4 separate regions of the Homo sapiens genome follow, and all the other regions are linked to region 3. The links come from fine-mapping of genetic effects on gene expression. A gene starts in region 3. Each other region holds a variant in brackets. All regions are shown on one strand. Distances are from middle to middle.

Region 1 (5,889 bases), 130 kb before region 3:
TGTGGCAGAGACCACTAACAGTTCCTTAGCATTAATTCTCCCTACCTTCCTTTTCGTTAATAGAATTCATCAAGTTTTACCCAGAGCTTACATGTTGCAGCCTCCCTTGCAACTGAGTACAATCATATGACAAGTTTTGGCAGTGAGAAGTGAAGAGAACATAAACAACTTCTGGTCATGTTCTCATTAAGACGCTGCCAGTCCTCGACTTCCCCTGGACCCCTTCCCATAGCTGGAAATCCAGTGAAGTGGGGATGAAACTGCTTCAACCATGTGAATGAAGGCAGTACTCAGGACCTTACTATTCAAAATGTGGCCTGCGAACCAGCAGAAGGAGCAGCAGCTGGGACTTTGTGGAAATAGGGGTTCTCAGGCCTCACCCTAGACCTACTGATGCCAAACTCTGCATTTAAATAAGATCTCCAAGTAATTCATATTCACACTAAAATTTGAGAAGCACTGATCCAGGAGAAGGTAGAACAACAAGCTAGAAGGAGCTTGGGTATCTAGACGACCCACCCTACTACACCACCTACCAGCTCAGACTTTTATAAGATAAGTAGACCTTCTATATTTGTTTAAGCACCTTTATTTTTACGTCTGTTTGATCCAAAATGCCAACTATATTAATATGTACAAACAAAACATGATATAAATTCCCACCTTTACAGCTTTTTCAATATAGTGTATTTGTTTTGTACCTTGCCTTTCTTCAATACCACAACCATTATTAAATCACATATATTATAGTGGTTTTATTGAGTAGTTAAGCTGATTATGTGCCAGTCCACAGCCATAAAATTAAAACAAATTTATAAATGAAATAAAAAAGAAAACTATAAAACCAATAAAAATCCAAATGAACAATTGTTTTAATATAACGAGGTAGATGATGTTTTTCTGCTGGAACGAAATCACTCTTCTCTTCACAACACAGCTACGGAACTGATGTTTCCACACAAATGTTTTTGAGTTTGGCATATTTATACTACCACGTGTTTTGTGATGGCTCAATTCTCTTACCAATTGACTCTATTTGAAGTACTGTCAAATCACCATTAGCATCAAATGTCATGATAGCTTTTGACTTCGCTTGGTCTAAATGCATCACTTACATCCTAAGTTACTTCTGTTCTTTTCTCATGCACACAGGATAATCCAAGAAGCACAACTTAACACCAGCTGTGTTATAAATACAACTGCAAACACAATTTATAACATAAGATGGTCATCCAGAAACCTAGAAAAATAAAACTTACATGCACACTAAGAAACTATAAATAAATGTTCATGGCAGCTTTATTTGTAATAGCCAAGAACTGGAAAGAACCCAAACATCCTTCAACAAGTGAATAGTGAAATACACTGCAGTACATTATACAGTAGAATATTACTCAGCAACAGAAAGAAACATACTGATACGTATGACTTGGATGGATCTCAAGTGCATTATGCTAAGTGAAAAAAGCTCATCTTAAATGTTTACATACTCTATGGACCATTTATATAACATTCTTGAAATGACAAAATTATAGTGATGAAGAACAGAGCAATAGTTGTCACAGGTCAGGTTAGGGAGAAAGTGTAAGTATAACGTGGTAACACCACAGAATTTCTTTGGGTGATGGAATTGTCTGCACCCTGGATGTGGCTGTGTTTACATAAATCTACACGTGATAAAATTTCACAGAGCTATGCACACACACATACACAAACACAAAAAGTGCATATAGGCTAAGTGTGGTGGCTCATGTCTGTAATCCCAGCACTTTGGGAGGATGAGGCAGGTGGATCACCTAAGGTCAGGAGTTCAAGACCAGCCTGGCCAACATGGTGAAACCCCCATCTCTATTAAAAAAAAAATTAGCCAAACTTGTTGGCATGCACCTGTAGTCCCAGCTACTTCAGAGGCTGAGGCAGGAGAACCACTTGAACCCGGGAGGCAGAAGTTGCAGTGAGCCAAGAACACACCACCACACTCCAGCCCGGGCGACAGAGCGAGACTCAGTCTCAAAAAAAAAGTGCATATAAAAACTGGTGAAATCTGAATAAAATCTGAACTTTAGTTAATACCAATGTCAATTTCCTGGTTTGCTAATGTGCTGGGGTTAAGATGCTATCTTAAACTAAGGGTATATGGGAACTCACTATACTATTTTCACCACTTCTCATGGGTAATTCTCAAGTATTTATACTCTAAAAGTACTTATACTTCTTAAGAGTATTTATACTCTCAAAGTATCTCAAATTTTTTTTAATCTTAACCTAATAACAAAGTGGACCAAATGGAACATCTTTTGAGACTTTGTACCTCATCATGATTCAGGCAAGGCACAACCAGTGTCAAAATACTCAGAGAAAGAGGCATTTACAAAAGGAAAGAAAAGTTCACCTTCAAAGAGAGCAAGAGAATCAGACTTCTGAAGGACTGGTCGGTTAAATAAAAAATATAACAAGGACTTAAAGGGAAAATGTGCAGTATTACCAAAGTTACAAAATATCCATTCACGTGTTTCTGGTGAGAAAGCAGCAACTTACTCACTTGACTGCTGTATTCACAAAGCTCTCGCCATAGCTCTAAACATCCACATAGCAAATATGGGGTC[C/T]GGGAGCTTGTTTTGGAAGGTGCCCAAGTTTACAATAAACATTCACGTTTTATTATTTGGGGACCAGGCCTGTCAGGGTGACTCTGATACTTCTGATTTATCTCAGGGTGCAAAGTTTTTATGTTTTTATTTTTTACTGTTAAAGGTGAAGTGTTTAGACATACTGGAAACAGAGCAGATTTGGCTTTTATGCAGAACATGTGTGATCTGCCAAAAGCACCTTCACTTTAACCCCTGTCATGACTGGGTCTGAGACTGATTTTCCCCACCACCCACTGTGACCCCACTGGGTCAAGGCTTGTGTCTGCGTGTCTGCTGTTTCTCATAGAGTATCACAGTGGAGAAATCATGAAGAATGCAGTCAACAAATTAAGAGGACTTGGAGACCATTCAAGAGTCTGGAACAAACTAATGAATGAATTATAAGAACTTAGGAAATAACAAAACAGTCAACATTCATTGGCTTATGAGATAGACACTACACAGAGTGCTTTCTATATATCATCTCATTTCATCCTCACCACAGAAGGCAGGCATTAGTCTCGTTCTCAGTGATGGGCCTGAGACTCCCCTGACTCCAGAGCTCATATTCGTAACCAGTACACTATGCCCACTTTTAGAAAAGGAAGCACTAAGGTTCACTAAGGACAAGCCATGCCTAATCTTATCACCTCTATAAATGGGACTTCCAAACTAACAGATCTGAGAAATAGGACAGACCTGATTTCAGCAAGGGATTGACAAGATTTTTATTATTAAGGAGAATGACAAGTTTGAAATGAGATCTTAAAGCCAGGACACAAGGAACAGAAACAATCACATGTGGGGATGCTTTCGTGAGAATTAAAGCTGCAGATGAAGAGGCTGGAGTGCATGGATTTTTCCATAGTCTCTAGGTATGTTGTGTGTTTTTCTCGATACGTGAATCTAACCAGTGAAATTCTTCTCACGCCGAGCCCCCAGTTTGTTCCACCTGGAAATTATTAATACCTTGTCTTCCTGCCTTTGACCTGGAACGGCAGTGTGAGAATATTCTCCCAGGGGGCAGCAGAGAGCAGCAGGACGCTCCAGCATTGGAAGCCATACCCTGGAACCAGCTCAGACCTGTCCTCAGGGGCACCCAGGCTGGGCCCAAAATCTCAGAGTGTGCAAACACAAGCCTTCATAAACTGCCCCTACTAAACCTCACCTGCCCCAACCAGCACTACAGATACAAATCACACTGCCAAGGCAAATGGCAGAAGGAAGGGTGAGGCAGGGATAAGAAACTATATACACACCGATGGGGAGGGGGAAGCCTCACCTGCTTTAACCCAACTTGTTTTTCAGGTCCAGAAAAGCTGCACCCTTTGCAGCTTTGCTTCATGTCCATGTATTAAATGCATATTCACGCAGAAAAATGTATCATGAGAGTGTTAAATAAGAAAGGCCCCTGACCTGAGGCTGTCTCTGTACTCTCAGTTCCTAGGTAATGAACCGCAACCTAACTTAGCACATAAACTGAAAACCTAACTTGGGAGAATAACAAACAGCTGAGTCTCAGCCCCTCTGCAGCCCAGCTTCAGCCAATCACAGGCTGCCAACTGATCAGACCCGAGGCCAAATAAGGCAAGAGCTGAGCTGCAACCAACCAGGCTATTTCTGTACTTTAACTTGTTTTCTATATCACTGCTTCTTTGCAGAGTTCTCTGAATCTTTTGTAATTCTGAGTGCTGCCCGATTCATGAATCATTCCTTGCTCAAATAAACTGCTAAATTTAAATTGTCTAGAGGTTGTTTTGTTTTTTTAACAAGAGGCTTGTTTAAAAAGGCTCCTACTGAGGCAGGAGAATAGGATCTGGAGGCAGGAAACCTTCACGCAGACTTCCTAGAACTAAATTGAAAGGAAAACCCTAACTTTCCACACCTAAGCAACAAAACGACCAGAGGCTACTCTCTTTGACCTTTTCTGAACGACAAATGGGAAATTGGGTGTCAACAACAAATCAGACTGATTGCAGGTGGAGTCTTCTTTTGCAACTTGGTAACTTCACTCCAGCCTCTGAATAGTTGCGGTCCACAACCAGTCAGACCGATTGCAGGCCAAGTCTTCGTTTGCACATAGAAGTATAACTTTGTAACTTCACCCTAGCCTCCGATTGGTTGCAAAATGCCTCTGATAGGTTTGCACAGGAGTGACCTTTGTAACTTCAGCCTCTGGTTGGCTGCTTTCTGCAACGAGACTGATTGTAGGCTACCAATTCATTTACATGAGATGAGCATGAAGTGGCCAATGGGAAACTTCTAGTGGGTATTTGGACCCAAGAAGATTCTGTATCCGGGCTCTTGAGCCGCAGCTCGGGTTCGCTCCCACCCTACGGAGTGTACTTTCGTTTTCAATAAATCCCTGCTTTCATTCTTTTGTTGCTTCTTTGCTTTGGTGGGCGTTTTGTCCAATTCTTTGTTCAAAATGCCAAGAACTTGGACACCTTGCAGTCACAACCCCACTACCAGTGACACTACTGCCTCTCAGACAAGAACACCCAGAGGCTGGGCACGGTGGCTCACGCCTGTAATCCCAGCACTTTGGGAGGCCAAGGAGGGCGGATCACAAGGTCAAGAGATCGAGACCATCCTGGCTAACACGGTGAAACCCCGTCTCTACTAAAAATACAAAAAATTAGCCGGGCACGGTGGCAGGTGCCTGTAGTCCTAGCTACTCGGGAGGCTGAGGCAGGAGAATGGCGTGAACCCGGGAGGCGGAGCTTGCAATGAGCCGAGATTGCGCCACTGCACTCCAGCCTGGGCGACAGAGCGAGACTCCGTCTCAAAAAAAAAAAAAAGAACACCCAGAGAAGAGCAAGGAGGGTGTGTGGCCCAAAGGTGAGGTTTCCTTTCTATCCCCTCAAACTTTTACTTTAAGGGCCACTCAGGTTTTTACAAGAACAGATTTGTGGGTACCACCCACACCCCAAAGCATCACACCTTGAGAATCCTGAGACCCATTTACTGTTGACACCTGAGTAGTGGAGGTGTGTGAGTTGAAGGGATCCAAACTTTCCAGGTAATTATTACATTGGCGAACCATACAAGGCCCAGAACACAGGCTCTAACCTATGAGGGACACAGGTTTGAATTCAATAGATGATCCCACTTTTGCAAGAAAACTTCCTGTGACTAGGAAATAAGATGTCCCTTTAAACTCTACCCTAGAGGGCCAGACTTCAGTTTCCATAAACCACAAACAGTTCATCTTTGAAACAGGTACCTGGGAGGCCAAGGCAGGCAGATCACTTGAGGTCAG
Region 2 (5,889 bases), 96 kb before region 3:
CATTATGTCTATGTTTTCCACAATTTTACCAAAGTCTGCTCCTGGGGAGGAGTAATGTGAAAGAGAAATTAGGAAGGAAGAACTGGAGAAAATTCTATACACCCTCTTATAACAAACAGCTTGGTCTTTACTCATTAAGCAATGAAAGCAATTAGATTCTGCTCTGCCTTCTCCCACTGCCGAGGGGAAGCGCTTCCCAAAAGTGAGCCACACCAGGCGTGGTGTGCACAGCCTGTCCCACATGAGAGCGTTGACAGGAACTGTAAGTCAAGGGCCCCAGGAGGTGTGTGAGAGTCATAGAGAGCCTTTTCCTCTCATCAAAGCAGGGCACACTAAGCTGCTCCTAGCCCAGGAGGACACCCTGGTTCCAAATCAAACCAGCTGTTTGCTGGTAACCATGTTAGCCAAGTTCAGAGTGGGAGGGGAGATAGGTTCTTACACATCATTTCCTGCATCCACTCCCTTAACGGGGCCCTTTATCATCCCACTCTGTTCCTTTCCTTCCTGGATGACTACAGTCTGCTTCTCACCGTGATGCCACTACTGGGGCACATAGCAGAGATCCCCAAACATTTGTTATCAGGTTTGAGATAACCAGTGTCATCATCAGGGTTCTCCATAGGAACAGAACCAATAGGGTGGGGGAAGTAGGGAGACAGAGATTAATTTAAGAAATTGGCTCACACAATCATGAGAGCTGATAAGTCTGAAATCCACGAGTTAGGCTGGCGAGTCCAGCAATAAGTTGATGTATTAAGTCTGACGATCTGGAGGCAGAATTCCTTCCTCTTCAAGGGACCTGAGTCTTTTAATGACTTCCGCTGACTCAGTGAGACCCACCCATATTGTGGAGAGCAATCTGCTTTCCCCAAAGTCCGCTGATTTAAATGTTAGTCACCTATTCTTAAAATACCTGCACAGCAACATCTAGATTTGCAAATAGCTGAACACAATAATTCAGTCAACTTGATACATAAAATTAACCATCACGATCAGAGTGAAGGGAGGATGTCGACCAGAGAACCTCTAAGTGAGAGAAGGACATACTGCCCCCAGCTGTGCACCTCATCTCACTGGAAACCCTGAAAACCTTCAGAAAGGGAGTTAAAGAAAGGGAAAAAAGGCCGGGCACGGTGGCTCACGCCTGTAATCCCAGCACTTTGGGAGGCCAAGGTGGGTGGATCACTTGAGGTCAGGAGTTCGAGACCAGCGTGGCCAACATGGTGAAACCCCATTTCTACTAAAAATACAAAAAAAAAAAAGAAAATTAGCTGGGCGTGATGGCAGGTGCCTGTAATCCCAGCTACTCAGGAGGCTGAGGCAGGAGAATCACTGGAACCCGGGAGGCAGAGGTTGCAGTGAGCTGAGATTGTGCCATTGCACTCCCGCGTTGGGGGGCAGAGCAAGACTTTATCTCAAAAAAAAATAAAAGAGGGAAAAAAAGCCCACAGTGGGAGCTCAACAGCTGCAATCATCTAGAAGGCACACAGTCTACATTCTGAGCAGAACACCCTCACTTCTTGAACCGCTAGATAAATTCCTCATTCTCCACATTAGTTTAAGCCATTTAACTTAGTATCGAAGTTGCTCACAAGAGACAAAAAGAACTGCAAAGAAATCTGAAGCTTACGCATATTCATATATTACTTTACTCACATAATATTGTCAGTAGTATTAGTATTGTGACTTCAAAACTGTTTTATGAAAATGTAGAAGAAAGCAAATAAAATATATTGATGTTATTAGGAACAAAGATTTTCAACGTAAGAGAAATTAGATGATATATAACATAAAACAGAGTTAAGAAGGGAAAAAACAACTCTGTAAAGTTGAAATTGGAACTCTCAGTTCAAACACATGATTGTGTATTTCTGAGCTTTGTCCACTAGAAGGAACTAAGAGCAATGAGATCCCAGTAGTGCTAAGCACAAATAGTACCCACACCTCGGCTTTTAAATACAGTTCCCTATTCAAAAGGATGAGAAATCCTCAGAGAAATGGCTGGTTCCAGGGCTCGGGCAGAGAACACAAAAGATGAGCCAAGGACATCTTCTGCCAGAAAGTAAAAGAAGTACGTAAGGACCAAGGGGGTTATATCAAAAGAAAACAGGAGGAAAACTGTGTGGCGACCTCTACCAAAGTAAACATACCCTATGAGCAAGGAATTCCACTTCTACCCCTATTCTCCTTACCCAAAAAAATGTGTTGACCCCAAGTACCAGAATGTTCATAGGGGCACATAATAGTCAAAACCTGGAATCATCCTTAATGTCCACCTACACTAGAATGAATAAATAAATGGCAGGAGCAATGAAAAACAAAGAACTGCAGCTGCACACACAAGAGTGAATCTCATGAGCATACAGACGTGCAAAGGAACCAGACAGAAAAGCGTACATGTGGTATGATTCCATTGACACAAAATTCCAAAACAGCCAAACTGATCAATAGGTTTAGAAGTAAAGCTGGTGGTTACTGGTGTGGGGACAAAAGTGATAGGAAGAGGGTGTGATTGGGGCTTCAGGCTCCTGGTAATGTTTTGTTTCTTGATCTAGGAGCTAGCTATTCATGTGTTTGCTTTGTGAACATTCTTTGAACTATAGACTTGATTTTTTGTGCATTTATCTATATGTTATATTTCAATGTAAAAATCATTTACTTTTTAAAAAGCCAACTTGTAGGCTGGGCACAGTGGCTGATGCATGTAATCCCGGCACTTTGGGAGGCCAAGGTGGGCAGATCACCTGAGGTCAGGAGGTCGAGACCAGCCTGGCCAACATGGTGAAACACTGTCTCTACTAAAAATACAAAAATTAGCCAGGCACAGTGGCAG[A/G]CACCTGTAATCCCAGCTACTCAGGAGGCTGAGGCAGAAGAATTGCTTGGACCCAGGAGGCAGAGGTTGCAGTGAGCCAAGATCGCACCACAGCACTCCAGCCTGGGCAACAAAGTGAGACTCCATCTCAATAAATAAATAGCCGACTTGAAGGGTTTCCCACGGGCCGAATTGGATACAATTTAACGTCAAAAAGGATAATGATGGTAGCTCTTTATTAATGAAGATACGTGAATCCCAGGGCAGGGAGTGGGGAGGATAAACAGGACAGCTCTTCTTTACAAAAGTAAGACACTCATAAATGTAAAAGAAATGACAAAATTCGAAGATCACCATTTTGTAACCCCTGATATAATCATTGATTCATGTAACAATCACCAGTGGAAGCCAAAACCTTTGGATGAAAACTTGTTAGCATACGGGCTATCCCTAGAGTACCAAAGTACCATCCCAGGGACCACTTACTTTTACAAAGAAGAGAAACTGGGCCAGGCACAGTGGCTCATGCCTGTAATCCCAGCACTTTGGGAGGCCAAGGTGGGCGGATCACAAGGTTAGGAGTTCGAGACCAGCCTGGCCAACATGGTGAAACCCCGTCTCTACTAAAAATTCAAAAATTAGCTGGGCATGGTGGCACACGCCTGTAGTCCCAGCTACTTGGGAGACTGAGGCAGAAGAATTTCTTGAACCCGGGAGGCAGAGGTTGCAGTGAGCTGAGATCGCGCCACTGCACTCCAGCCTGGGTGATAGAGCAAGACTCCATCTCAAAAAATATATAAAATAAACAAAGAAGAGCAACTGTACCTTTGAAATGGAGAGGTATGGTGGTGACCACCTTAATCCAGTGATTGAATTTCACATCACAAAAAATGGAACACTGTGGCATTACATGCTTCCTGATATGATGCAAATTCAACAACCTAATCTAAGGCAGTAGCGCTTCTTAATTGCATTAGAATCACCCGAGGAGCTTTTCAAACTCCTAATGCCAACTACGGCAGAATCTACTTGGGCAGGGGCGGGGGCCGGAGTTGCCAAGCATCAGTATTTTTTAAAGCTTCCCACATGATTGTAATGTACAGTTAAGATATTCTGAACAAAAACGTATACTCGAATCTAACTTCTAGTTTAAAGAATATACAGGAGATAGAGCAGTGGTTCTTACTTCTGACCTCATATTAGAGCCACCCGGAGATTTTTGAAAGTAGGGCCACCTGGGCTGCATCCCAAGGGCTTCTGATTTAACTGGATTAGAGCAGCACTCAGACATTTGTATGAAATTTCTAGGTTTTTAGTTTTGTATTTAAAACCCCCAGTGAGAACAGAGTGGACCAATTTATTACTTCTTCTTTGTAAGGCCAATTAATCAAAACAAGGAATTCTAATGTACAGCCCGGGTTAAAACTTACTGGGAAAGAGGAACAGGTTAACATCAAGAGAAAACACAATCTAGAATGTGGGACATTCTATAAGGCTGCGAGCCTGGATTCTTCAAAAAGTCAATGTCATGGAGGGAAAAAAAGAGGGATAAAACATTCTATGTTAAAATGAAGTTTTAAAATGTAATGTATGCATTAATTTGAGAGAAACAGCTACAAAGACATTTTGGAGGAATTAATGCAGTTTGTTTGTTTGTTTGTTTTTCTGAGACAGGGTCTCGTTCTGTCATCTAAGCTGGGGTGCCGTGAGTGGTGTCATCATAGCTCACTGCAGCTTCAACCTCCTGGACTCAAGTGATCCTCCCACCTCAGCCTCCTGAGTAGCTAGGCCTATAGACATGCACCACCACTCTTGCCTTTTTTTTTTTTTTTTTTAAGAGACGTCATTTTACTATATTGCCCAGACTGGCCTTGAACACCTAGGCTCAAGCAATCTTCCTAAAGTGCTGAGATTACAGGCGTGAGTCACCATGCCCGGCCAGAAATGTAAATATTTAGTTGATTTTAGATAGTTAATTTTCTTAGCAGGGATAATGACATTTTGTTTCTGTGGATAAATATCTGTATTCTTAAGGGATGAAATGCTGAATATCGAAAAGTGTTGTGTCATCATGTGTACATAATTTGCTTTCAAATGGCACACAAAAAAGAAAACCAAAGTACAGAGAAAAATAAAGCAAGTATTGCAAAATATTAACAATTGTGAAATTTATGTGGAGGGCATATGGGATTACACCATAATAATCTTTCAACTTTTCTGTGTGTTTGAAATATTTCATAACCGTAAGTTGAAGAAATGAGAAAGATTTTAAATAGAGATAAAAACTCACTTACAAGGCCATGGAATTTCCATCTGTTTTACTTCTCTGCAGGCAAGTCTACTCACAACTCCACCACACTCAATCAACCTTACACCACACCCAGCAATTAAAGGCTGCCTTTCTCAATCTTTGCCCACTAGATTTCGTGCATTCAAACAAGTGTAGAAAATGCTGGGTTATATTGGATTTATCCACAATCAGGCATGGCAAACACCACCAGGAAGCACTTCTCTCTTGAGCTGACCTGCCTCGCCTATGACATCCAAGAAGACTGGCAGTTATGGTATCCATGACAACTTTCCTATCTCATTTGGGCTTGAGAATCAGGCTTCCTCTAGTCTCTGACAGAGGCACTTCAAAGTAACAAGCCTGCAAATATTCTCATGGCACAATACAAGCCATATATGAAATACAAAACTATCTACCTCCCTGCCCTGGCTAGTCCCTTGCTGTGGGACAAAAATGCTTAAGCCATGATGGTAGGGCTCTCCTGGTAAGTATTTAGCAAAGGAAAGGAAGCTTTACAACATGACAAATGGCAAAAGGTGATTTCACTCTTTTCCCCCAGAATCATCAGAGGCTCTGCCCCACCTGTTAAGACTACAAAGCGGATAAAATACTGCCAGTCTGCCAGGAGCTCATGGTCAACCACAGTGGACAAATACCATGCTTCTAATTAGGCAGACTATAATAAACTGCATGATAGGGGTGTTTCCAGAGTGGTGTGGGTCTACAGAAGAGGGAAGTATTAATTCCATCTGTGGGTGTTGGAGAAAGCTACACAACGGAGTTCCTT
Region 3 (5,889 bases):
GGTCAGGAGTTCGAGACCAGCCTGGCCAACATGGCGAAACCCCATCTCTACTAAAAATACAAAAATTAGCCAGGCGTGGTGGCAGGCACCTGTAATCCCGGCTATTCTGGAGGCTGAGGCAGGAGAATCGCTTGAACCTGGGAGGCGGAGGTTGCAGTGAGCCAAGATGGCGACATTACACTCCAGCCGGGCAACAAGAACAAAACACTGTCTCACACACACACACACAAAGAAAAGAAATCAATCTGAAGTCTTCCTCTGTTCAGGACTTCTAACTCAGAGACAAATTTTCAGACAGGCAGAGGCAAATTTCTCTAAATTTTAGGTTTCTAGGATTGATGATTAAGTTGAATGTAATGTTTAAGCTGTAGAAAGTATGCCTCTTTCCAAAAGCCTGTAGCTGGCCACAGATTAGTTCTGGGTGAAGCTTACTAATCATTAATGGATTTATGAAATTCAAACTACTTCAGAGTAAGCCTCCTGACAAGTAGGGAAAAAAATCCAGTTTTCTCATTCAGTTCTTTCCACCAAGCTAAAATGAGGATTCAATCTCAAATTGATGTTCCAAACTATCAGATAGTTTTAAATGATTCTAGAAGTTGAAGTGGAAAAATATAAATACAACAGCTGATAGTAATTCAAGACTGGCTTATGTCAAACAATTGCATTTCTAACCTGAGTTAATTCAATAACGTGAAATTTGAAATAAGATTTTTTTATCTTAAGTTTAAAATCATAAGGTTCTATAATATTGGATGTCAGTTGGTTGCAGTTCTCACCTATTTGAAAAAAAAATTGAAACTACTTGTCGCTAAACCATGGTAACTCAAAAACATTAAAGGCAAATATCTACTAAGGCACTATATTTCATTTCATAATTTATTTCTCCATCCCCCAAAAAAGGCATCACCTAGTTATTTATAGGACACTATCACTATTGCAACATAACAGAAAAATCTTAACATCATTGATAACTGTAGCATTTTAGTGTGTAAAATCTATATTAGATTTTAGGTGTCAAATCTATACTAGATTCTAATAGTGCACTCTACATTCAACCTCTGATTTAAAGAGTTTCATTTTAACCCAGCATTGTTTAAATTAATTTTAGGATGTGTTATGTCAGTCAAGATATACTTGCTTCTACTGAGAGACTTCTATTAAATATGCATTCAAGTATATATTTTACAAGGCATGACCTTGCGAGCCCTAAAGAGTGAGACTAAACTGCAGCTACAAATAAATGGTGCAGGAAATCAAAGCAAACTATATTCAGAGTCTAAATCCAAAATATGCATTCTGGTTCTTAAATTCCAGGTTTGGAAAGAAATGCCAACAGTAATAAATAAATAAACTGCTTTGAAAGCATCTCAAATTCCTCAAAAGTGCTTAAACAAAAGACTCAGCTTTGAGTACAACCTTAAGCTATCTCAAAACAAATAAACACACTTGATAAGGCTTAGAATGAAATTACCTCAGTCACTCACTGGAATGCAACAATGCATTCGCAAAGTTATTCTGAAGTAAGCTACTCCAACTAAACCACACTGAAAAGGAGAGAACGTGGATAAACTAAACATGTTTTGTGAAATACCTGTTTTGTATTGGCCTGAGTTTTTTAAAAGTTACATCTCATTCATTATCAGTATTTAATCTGCAAGAATATCATCAAAGGATGTCAATATGGACAAGCAGAGACAAGAAACATCAGACTTTCAGGGAGCCTATCTTCACAACCCTGAGTTATTAACTGAAGTTCTCAAAGTTAGATGAGTTAAGATACAGACAACGTGCTTTGCACAAATGCTTTGCTTATAGTAACCACTCAATAGTCATTAACAAGAATTTATTAACTATCCACCAAAACACAGTTTCAAACCCTACCGACAACTAACCACAAATTGCACCACTTTTCGGGCCGACTTCTACGGACGGTGCACAGAAGCAATAAATACACTTTTAAAACTCCCCAACTTGAAGACCAAAAAGATACAATAACTTAAACTGCTTTCAAAAACTACTGGAGTGTCATGCCTACAAATTCAGAACCTGGCTTAAAAGCTAGTTAACTGACTAGAATTCTTGGTAGACCCAAAGCCAACTAAATCAGGAACACTTAAAGGTCAAAGGCGTCCAAGCCGGGAGCGATGTGCTCCACTGTTACATGATCCCCGCCTCCTACAGGAACAGGGGACTGAACCAAAGGCAGTTGCGGCCGAAGTGCAGGCGACACACAGGGTTACACATCACCTTCGGAGATTTCCTCCAGGAATCAAGACGCTTCCCCCTTGGGTCCAGCGACTCACAGGTGACCCCGGATCTCAAGAGTTCTCGTCTCCCCCACCCCCCACTTAACCCCGCGAGCGCCGCCCTCGGCCCCCAGACCTCCCCCTGCACCCCCGGCTTCCGCGCACAGGACCGGCGGGGCCGCCGCTCCAGCCTCCACCCCAGGCCCGGGGCCTGGGGAAATGCGGCCCCGCGGCCCGCGCCCCCAGCCCGGCCCCCGCGCGCGCGGCCGGGACAGGATACTGAACACCGTCCGCTCCCAGGGCTCCAGCATGTAGAGCGCCGTGACCAGCAGGTACTGGTAGTAGAACCAGGACATCTGCTTCCAGGCCCGCGCCAGCGCCATCCCCGCCATGCGCCTCCCGCGATGCAGCTCACACGTCAGTCTGTCCGGCCGGCCGCCCGCTCACGTCCTAAAGCCCCCGGCCGCCAGGCCCGCCCGCCCGCCACCCAGCGCCCATTGGCCCGCCCGGCCCCGCCGTCACCCGCGGCACGCCCAGACCCGCGCGCGCCCCGGCCGCCGGCCCCCAGCCCCGCCCGACCCGCGCTCATTGGCCAGGCCGCTACCTCGCGTCGCGTCGTCCCCTCCCGTTTCCCCGCCCGGGCATCGCCCACGCTAGCCGGAGAACGGTCCCCGCGAGAGCGCCCAGCCGCGCCCCACCCCGCCCGGGCCGGCCGGTGGTGGGCGGGGCGTCAGTGCCGGCCGGGGTCCCGGGGCCCCCGCAGCCCAGCGGGCGCTCGGTCCGTCCAGACTGGCCCAGAGCGCTTGCGGAAGAAATATTTCTGGAACACTTGTTATGCCTCAGGCATCCTTCTGAGAAGGAGGATTGCCAGGGAGAACCGGAATGCCTTCGGTTCCTTACCTTGTGCAGCTGGCGGCCTAGCTGGGAGACAAGCATTAATCAAGTCGTGATCCGTGTAAGAGGAGATAAGGGGCTGAGAGAGGGTGAGGAGGCGAACGCCACCTAATAAGGAGGTCTGGAAAGGCGTCCTTGTAGAAGGGATGCACATTCGGCCTCCTTCCTCCCTTCCCCCACCCATGCACACACACACACACACACACACACACACACACACACACACACACACCCCTAGACGGACATAACCCATGCACTCCCTAACCCAGAGACCACTTACCAAAAACATCTATCTGCCCACCTCTTAGTGGCTGTAGGTAACCACCAAGTGGGTCAAGGCCAGAAGCGCGCTGATCTAGTGGGTTCTGCAGAAGACAGGCAGCTTGAGATTGGTGTGAGGGCTGGTGATACTTCCCTAGAGATGCACTCCTGGATGCCCAGATTTTCCCACTGCCAGATGGGCCAGCAACATTGCACTGGCCACAAGGAGCTCCATGCACTGGTGTAGCATGTGAACTGCCACAATTAAATGGCCTGCTGTTTAAATGTTAAAAGTCTTCCAGGTTAAACATACTACTGCTTAAACTTTAAAAGTTTCATGGTTAATAACTATTCATTAAAAGTACCAAGTGCCGGCCAAGCGCCGTAGCTCATGCCTGTAATCCAAGCACTTTGGGAGGCTGAGGCTGGCGGATCACTTGAGTCCAGAAGGTCGAGACCAGCCTGAGCAACATGGTGAAACCCCGTCTCTACCAAAAAAAATAAGTAAATACATAACAAAAAGTTAGCCAGGGGTGGTGGCGTGCACCTGTAGTCCCAGCTACTCAGGAGGTTGAGGCGGGAGGATTGCTCGAGCACGGGAGGTCGAGGTTGCAGTGAGCCAGGATGGTGCCACTGCACTCCATCTTAGGTGGCAGAGCAAAAGAAAGGAAAGAAAGGAGACAGAGAAAGAGAGGAGAAAACAGAAGAGAAGAGAAGAAAAGAAAGAAAACAGTAAGTAATATCAAGTGCCAGACATTGGGATAGCAAGCCAGATAGACTGAGACCTGCCTTCATAAAGTACCCAGTCTGCTGGGGAAGAGAGGCAAGTTAATGGATTACAGTGAGGTGTGGTAAATGATATTTTTGTGGATCGTATCCTTTAGGATACCAAGATAGCCCAGACAAAATCAGATTGGGCTTGTGAAAGTCTTCTGAGAAATGGTGCTTGAACTGAGTGTTGAAGGACAAGCAGAAATGGAAGAATGAATGAGCTTGGGGAAGAGAGGGTGAGACAGACATTCTAAGGATGAAGTTGTGATGTTTTTAGAAGACTGGAAGAACTTCCATGTGGCTGGAGCAAAAAGAATGTATATGCAGTAGCAAGAGATGGGCCTAGACAGCAAACAGGGACCATATTCTGAAGGACCTTGTTTGAGAAGCTAAGAAATTTTTAACTTGATGTCCAAAAGTTACTGGAGCCAACAACTTAAATAAGATTTTCTTTCAGGGCTGGGTGTGGTGGCTCACACCTATAATCCCAGCACTTTGGGAGTCCAAGGCGGGTGGATCACATGAGGTCAGGAGTTCCAGACCAGCCTGGCCAACATGGTGAAACCCCGTCTCTACTAAAAATATAAAAAATTAGCCGGGCGTGATGGTGGGTGCCTGTAATCCCAACTATTTGGGAGGCTGAGGCAGGAGAATCGCTTGAACCCGGGAGGCGGAGGTCGTAGTGAGCTGAGATCACACCATTGCACTCCAGCCTGGGCAACAAGAGCAAGACTCCGTTTAAAAAAAAAAAATGCTTTCGGAACAAGACTTGGGTGTGGGTAGTAGCCTGGAGGCTACCGAGGGAAAAAACAGGTTGGGAAGACATTACAAAGGTAGAACCCACAAATACTTGAAACCTCCTTACCCCTCAGAGATGCAGGTACACGTGCCCTCCTACTTTCAAACTTAACTGTTTTGGACTTCTTTCTGTCCCTGTTCCTGTTCAGGCACAGGCAAGCTCATTCCTTTTTCCTCGAGAACTCCAACTACCCTCAGCATCTGGTGATGCTACATAAAATTCATCCAAGATTGGAAGCATCACCCGTAGCCACCCTTCCTTTACTGGGTCCACTCCCTAGCACCATGTCTGCCAGGTGGTTGTCCTCACTGTTAGTAGCTCCCAATCCACTGCGTGTCTCTCGGAGACCAGCTCTACCACCTCATCTCACTAAAGTTGGTGACTGACTAGAAATGAGGAAAAGAGGCTGAGATCCTGGATGATGACAATACAAAGAAACCGAAGGAAGACGTTTGGCTGAAAAGATATTGATTTTGTTAGGATGAAGCTATGTCTGAGGTACCTGAGGGACACTTAAATGGAGGTGTCCAGGGGACAATTGAGCACATGGTTTGGAACTCAGAAGTGAAGCCTGAATGGAACTAGAGGCATATGAATTTTCAATATGTCCCTGGTCATTGAAGCCAGAAGAGCAGATGAGGTCACCCAAGGAAAGCACATAGAATGGGAAGAGCAGGGTACAGAATAAACCCAGAGATTCTGGCATTTGGCCAATGAGAGTCCAAAGGAAGCCAATACAGGGAAGGAGCTACCTGAGATTTGACAGCAATGAGGAGAGACATACAGGAGAAGCTAATGGAGGAAGGGATAGCCAGCAGAACAAATGGCTCAGGGAGGATAAGCAAAATAAGGAAGGGAAGCGCCAATTTGTTTTGTCCACATGGGGCTAGATTGATGACTCAGCATTTCATTGTG
Region 4 (5,889 bases), 220 kb after region 3:
CATAAATCATCCAGAGTTACCAAAACTTCATTCCCAGTCATTTGACACCATTTAGGGAGGACTGTGTTGGAAATGTGCAGCTGTTAAAGGCCCCACCACCCCCACTTAAGAATTAGGAGGCGTAAGAATAGGAAAGTAGTCAATACTACAGTCTCTAAGTGGAATATGGGTGTTTCATTTAAAGTTATTCCATCAATTTGAGGGTGAAAATATAATTCTCCCTTCCTTTGTCATAACTCAGGCACAGACTGTTTTCAAAATAAATTGAAGGCGAGAAGATTGAAAATTTTAGAGTTCGACTTGCAAATTAGAACCCGATGAATTTATTCACAGTCCAGTAGACAACTCTACAGTAAGGTTTGTACTGGTAAACTGGAGTGCTGTGGGGTTAATTTCTCAGAGATGAAGAACGGGTTAATAATCTCACCCTGATTATTCAGTATCTACTGAAAAGTGTTTACCACAGAGACGCAAGACAATAGAGACTGCATGCCACGTCCCCCTCTGCTATGACATACTCACACTGCTTTCAAACCATATTAATACCATGGATTGTGAATGCTCTACTCATTCTAGTTATTCGGGCAAAAATTCTCTTGTTAGTTGGCAAGAGCACCTCAAACCTCTTTTCAACCATCAGCAGTTAGTACTTTACTTTCCCTTGCTCACACCACCTGAATAATCAGGAATGCCTCTGTATTCATCAGTGCCTCCTTCACGGGGCAAATTGTGTATACTATACATATACACACACATATATACACACATATGCCCATATATGTATATATACATATATAGAGCTATATACTTATATGTGCATGTGTGCATGCGCGTGGGTGTGCACGTGTGTGTGCATGTGTGTGCATGTGTGTGTGTGCACATATGTGTGCGTGTGTGTGTGTGTATAGTGGCATGCACCATATAACAACATTTCAGTGAACCACAAACCACATATACAACAGTGGTCCCATAAGATTATAACACCATAGGCCGGGCGTGGTGTCTCACACCTGTAACCCCAGTACTTTGGGAGGCTGAGGTGGGCGGATCACCTGAGGTCAGAAATTCGAGACCAGCCTGGCCAACATGGTGAAACCCCGTCTCTATTAAAAATACAAAAATTAGCTTGGTGTGGTGTCACACGACTATAATCCTAGCTACTCGGGAGGCTGAGGCAGGAGAATTGCTTGAACCTGGGAGGTGGAGGTTGCAGTGAGTCAAATGCACACCGCTGCACTCTAGCCTGGGCAACAGAATGAGACTCCGTCTCAAAAATAAACAAATAAATAAATAAATAAAAAGATTATAACACCATATTTTTACTGCACTTTTTCTGTTTTTAGATGTGTTTAGATACACAAGTACCATTGTGTTACCACTGCCTACAGTATTCAGTACAGTAACATGGTGTACAGGTATGTAGCCTAGGAGCAATAAGCTGCACCATATAGCCTAGGTGTGTAGTAGCCATATCATCTAGGTTCGTGGTAAGTACATTTGATGATGCTCACACAATGATGAAATTGCCTAACGATGCTTTTCTCAGAATGTATTCTTCATGGTTAAGTAATACATGGCTGTGGGGATATTTGTATGTGTGTGTATATATATATATATATATATATATATATATATATATATATATAGACACACACACACACACACACACACACACATATATATTCATGTGTCTTAAGAAACTGAGAGTTGGCCGGGCGTGGTGGCTCACTCCTGTAATGCCAGCATTTTGGGAGGCCGAGGCGGGCGGATCACAAGGTCAGGAGATCGAGACCATCCTGGCTAATACGGTGAAATCCTGTTTCTAAAAATACAAAAAATTAGCTGGGCGTGGTGGTGCGCGCTTGTAGTCCCAGCTACTTGGGAGGCTGAGGCAGGAGAATGGCGTGAACCTGCGAGGTGGGGCTTGCAGTGATCTGAGATTGCGCCACTGCACTTCAGCCTGGGCGATAGAGCAAGACTCTGTCTCAAAAAAAAAAAAAAAAGAAAAGAAACTGAGAGTTACATAAATTTTCTCTTTTTTGAGACAGAGTCTTGCTCTGTTGCCCAGGCTGGAGTGCAGTGGCAGGATCTGAGCTCACTGCAACCTCCGCCTCCGGGTTCAAGTGATTCTCCTGCGTCAGCCTCCCAAGTAGCTGGTAGTACAGACACCTGCCACCACGCCCGGCTAATTTTTGTGTTTTTAGTAGAGACAGGGTTTCACCATGTTGGCCAGGCTGGTCTCGAACTCCTAACCTCAGATGATCCACCCGCCTTGGCCCCCCAAAGTGTTGGGATTACAGGCGTGAGCCACCGTGCCCAGCCAGATTTTCCTTTTGCCTGCCTTTCTGTTTTTTTCTCTGATCTTTTAAAAATCAAATTATTCACTGACAACCTTATTCTTTTTAAACATTTAAATCTAATTATATGTTTAAGATCTACTTAACAAGGTGAGTGGATCTGCTATAATTATTGTAACTAC[G/T]TTATGTTCACCTATTTGATATTTTTACTTCATTTTCTTGGCTCTTAAGACTTTTTTTTAAAACTGTGCTTTTTAAGGAGTTTCTTAATTTATTGATTTAGTTTGCCTCTTTTTTTTTCCGAACAATCCAGAAATTTATTATTTTATATAACAAGAAGTAGTACAGCAGTGGGGCAGTTTTGCAGTTGGTTAACTCAGTGGTTCAATGTTGTCAAGGACACAGATTCTTTCCATTTGCTCCCTGGTCATCCCAACCAAATTGGCTTTTGTCCTCCAGTTTGTCCCTTCATGTGCTCCTCGGCAACTTCTCTTCCTGATGATTATGCTTGGGTTTTCTCCCTCTCCACAGTTCCCAGTGCCTACTCCTGTTTGCTTACCTAGAGGAGTCTTGCCTCAGGAGATCTGAGGTCTGGGGCTTTGAGCTTCTGGCCTGGCCTCCACCCTGCCTCTCTGGAAGGTTATCTGATCTGACTCCAGCTGGCATAGCTCTGCGCCCCAATGCCCCTCTCCTGGGCTGGACTTGGAATTAATTCACATTCTTTTTTTTTTTTTTTTTTTGAGTCAGAGTTTCGCTCTTGTTGCCCAGGCTGGAGTGCAATGGCACAGTCTTGGCTCACTGGCTCATTGAAACCTCCGTCTCCTGGGTTCAAGCAGTTCTCCAAGGGAGCCTCCCAAGTAGCTGAGATTACAGGCATATGCCACAGGGTTTCATGTCGGCCAGGCTGGTCTTGAACTCCTGACCTCACGTGATCCACCTGCCTCAGCCTCCCAAAGTGTTGGGATTACAGGCGTGAGCCACAGCACCTGACCTCATTCACATCTTGAATTAAAAACCATAAGCAGTTCAGGGATGAAATTCATTGTCTATTTCTCATTATCTGTGCACCCCATTCCTTCCTCGCTTCTGAGGACACCCCACTCCCCTGGTTTCTCTGGGTCTTCAGCATACCCTGCTGCCTCTCTTCTGGCCTGGAAGTCTCCCAACATTCAGACGGGTTCTTCTCGCAAAATATTCTCTCCTCTGGGAAAAGTTACCCATTTGCGGCTTCTCCTCTCACTCTTTGTAGATCCTTCTTTACCTTACCTAGGGAGAGATTCAGGTCTCATCTCCAACCACAGCTTGTAACCTGAATATTCGGTCACTACTGTGAGTTGAATGTGCCCTTAGCTGAATGCCCCCACCTTTACTGCCCAGATCTGTCATTGTGCACATGCTGTTAACATGACAATTCTATTCAAATATTGTTTAAAGCTAAGAACTGAGAAATGGTGGGATTATATTCAATACAAGTCACTTTTTTTTCTTTAAGTACATGGATCAAAAGTGAAGACGTAAAATTACTGGGGCTTGCATTTAGTTATGAGACCCATTGAGGTGGATAAAATTAATGGGAAAACAACAGCTCTAGCTCCAAAAAGGAAAGGGCTGAATTTCAGAAATCGACTGGGTAAGACATGACAATTAAGTGAAATGTGTGATTTTTTTTCCCTTCTTTCTTCTGGATCCTGTATTTTAAAAACCTACAAAGGGTATTATTGGAATAACTGGGAAATTCTGAATAGGGACTGTATTTTCAATGCTACTATTGTATTAATGTAAAATTTCCCGAGTGAGATACTTATTTTTTTTATTTTTATTTATTTATTTATTTGAGATGGAGTTTCACTCTTGTTGCCCAGGCCGGAGTGCAATGGCATGATCTCGGCTCACCACAACCTCCGCCTCCTGGGTTCAAGTGATTCTCCTGCCTCTGCCTCCCGAGTAGCTGGGATTACAGGCATGCACCACCACATCCGGCTGCTTTTTTTGTATTTTTAGTAGAGATGGGGTTTCTCCATGTTGGTCAGGCTGGCCTCAAACTCCTGACCTCAGGTGATCCACCCGCCTCGGCCTCCCAAAGTGCTGGGATTACAGGCGTGAGCCACCGCGCCCGGCCGAGATACTTATTTTATAGTTACATAGGATGAATATTTTTATTCTTAGGAGATACACACCGAAGTATTTTTGGATGAAGTGTCACAGTGTCTATAGTTAACTCTTAAATGGTTCAGCAAATGATTTTTAAAAAATAGAATGCAAATGCAGTAAAATTTAATTGATAAATCTGCGTGAACATCTGGTGACATATGGTGTTCATTGTACTACTTGCAACTTTTCTATCTTTGAAATTTTTCAAAATAAAAAGATGTGAAAAAGCCGTGACAGGTGGACAGTCACCACTCTGACATAAGGACCGTGTGTGTGTATGTAGGAGGTATCATAGTTTAAGTTTATATTTAGAAACTTTAGCAGTATAATCATTCAAGAAAGAAGATCACATCATTTTCTATTTAAAACCTCCATTAACAGTCTAGTGGGTGAAAGGGCTGGTGAGTGATGTTGCTTCCTGAAGGCAGAGGCTGACTCTATCCCCTCTCTGAAGCCTCCACCACTTCCACAGAACCCTGTTTGCAGGGTACAGGCCCCACAGAGGAAGTTGGCCGTGACTCTCACTGCCGTAACTGCTCAGGTACAGACACAGTTCAGTTGCTTCTGTCTCTTGAGTTGGGTCATCCTAGGAGGTGGGGAGTAACATGTCAGTCCTGCCAGTTGTCAGGCTCTAGTCTAGACTTTCACATATGTTATCACATTCCAACTGCACAGCCTCCTGGTGAGGGAGGAATTATCATCCCCATCTACAAATGAGAAAACAAAGTCCAGGAGTGGTTTTCAGCCAAAGCCACAAAGCTGGTAAGTGGTGGAGCTTGGATTCCAGTGGAGTCTTTCCACCAGAGAAAACCTAATAAATACAGCAACAAAGCTGGTCTGTCTCACTCCACACATCCTAACTGGAACACAACATGTCAATCCCAGATAATTTACAAAGTTATCAACTGGGTTTCAGAACAAATTTGCCCATTTGCTATGGAGAAGCTGATGTCCTCTAAGCCTGTGTTCATCAACTAGAGGGATGTCCAGATCCCACTGCTGCCCACTGTATTTTTGACACAAGTCAAATCAGTTTGGCTGTATTGTTTGCTGCTCACTATCACCGTATTAAAGATTTGTGAGGGGCACTGCTACTGCTGCTGCACTTCAGGGTATGAATCCATTCAATGTTTGCTTTCTCACCTCTATCTAGGCTGGCAATGTTAGGTGTTTGTTGTGGTTGTTGTTTGGGTTTATTTTTAGAAAGTGATACAGGAATTAATTTCCTAAATTTCAATTACCTTGCTTCCTACAGTTGGTCCTCCAGGTCCAGTAATTTCAACAATCTGGGTATTTTTTCTTTTTTCTTTTTTGAGACGGAGTCTCGCTCTGTTGCCCAGGCTGGAGTGCAGTGGCACTATCTCAGCTCACTGCAAGCTCTGCCTCCTGGGTTCACACCATTCTCCTGCCTCAGCCTCCCGAGTAGCTAGGACTACAGGCG

Direction of the effects. Positions count from the first base shown, and alleles are read on the strand shown. Sizes are in standard deviations (SD) of each study's normalised expression. Not every link is listed here.
As copies of T replace G in region 4, the expression in lung of the gene that starts at base 2,674 in region 3 goes up (moderate effect, 0.68 SD a copy in GTEx).

Evidence for each region. PIP is the estimated chance that this variant, and not a neighbour inherited with it, causes the effect.
Region 1: its variant is the best candidate, but not a certain one, in a credible set for the expression of SPTSSA in whole blood (INTERVAL, PIP 0.56).
Region 2: its variant is the best candidate, but not a certain one, in a credible set for the expression of SPTSSA in whole blood (TOPMed, PIP 0.63).
Region 4: its variant is the best candidate, but not a certain one, in a credible set for the expression of SPTSSA in lung (GTEx, PIP 0.73).

The regions. Positions count from the first base shown.
Region 1 is chr14:34,328,175-34,334,063 of GRCh38, forward strand. No RefSeq gene overlaps it. Among named protein-coding and RNA genes, the nearest start is that of SPTSSA, 130 kb to the right of the region's middle. The variant C/T (reference allele first, on the strand shown) is at 2,607.
Region 2 is chr14:34,363,599-34,369,487 of GRCh38, forward strand. No RefSeq gene overlaps it. Among named protein-coding and RNA genes, the nearest start is that of SPTSSA, 96 kb to the right of the region's middle. The variant A/G (reference allele first, on the strand shown) is at 2,834.
Region 3 is chr14:34,459,567-34,465,455 of GRCh38, forward strand. It overlaps SPTSSA (serine palmitoyltransferase small subunit A), which reads right to left and starts at 2,674. Exons shown (of 2, transcript NM_138288.4): 1 at 2,530-2,674. The coding sequence starts at 2,641. RefSeq lists enhancers at 1,887-1,996, 2,537-3,487 and silencers at 2,397-2,566, 2,687-3,196.
Region 4 is chr14:34,678,070-34,683,958 of GRCh38, forward strand. No RefSeq gene overlaps it. Among named protein-coding and RNA genes, the nearest start is that of CFL2, 34 kb to the right of the region's middle. The variant G/T (reference allele first, on the strand shown) is at 2,480.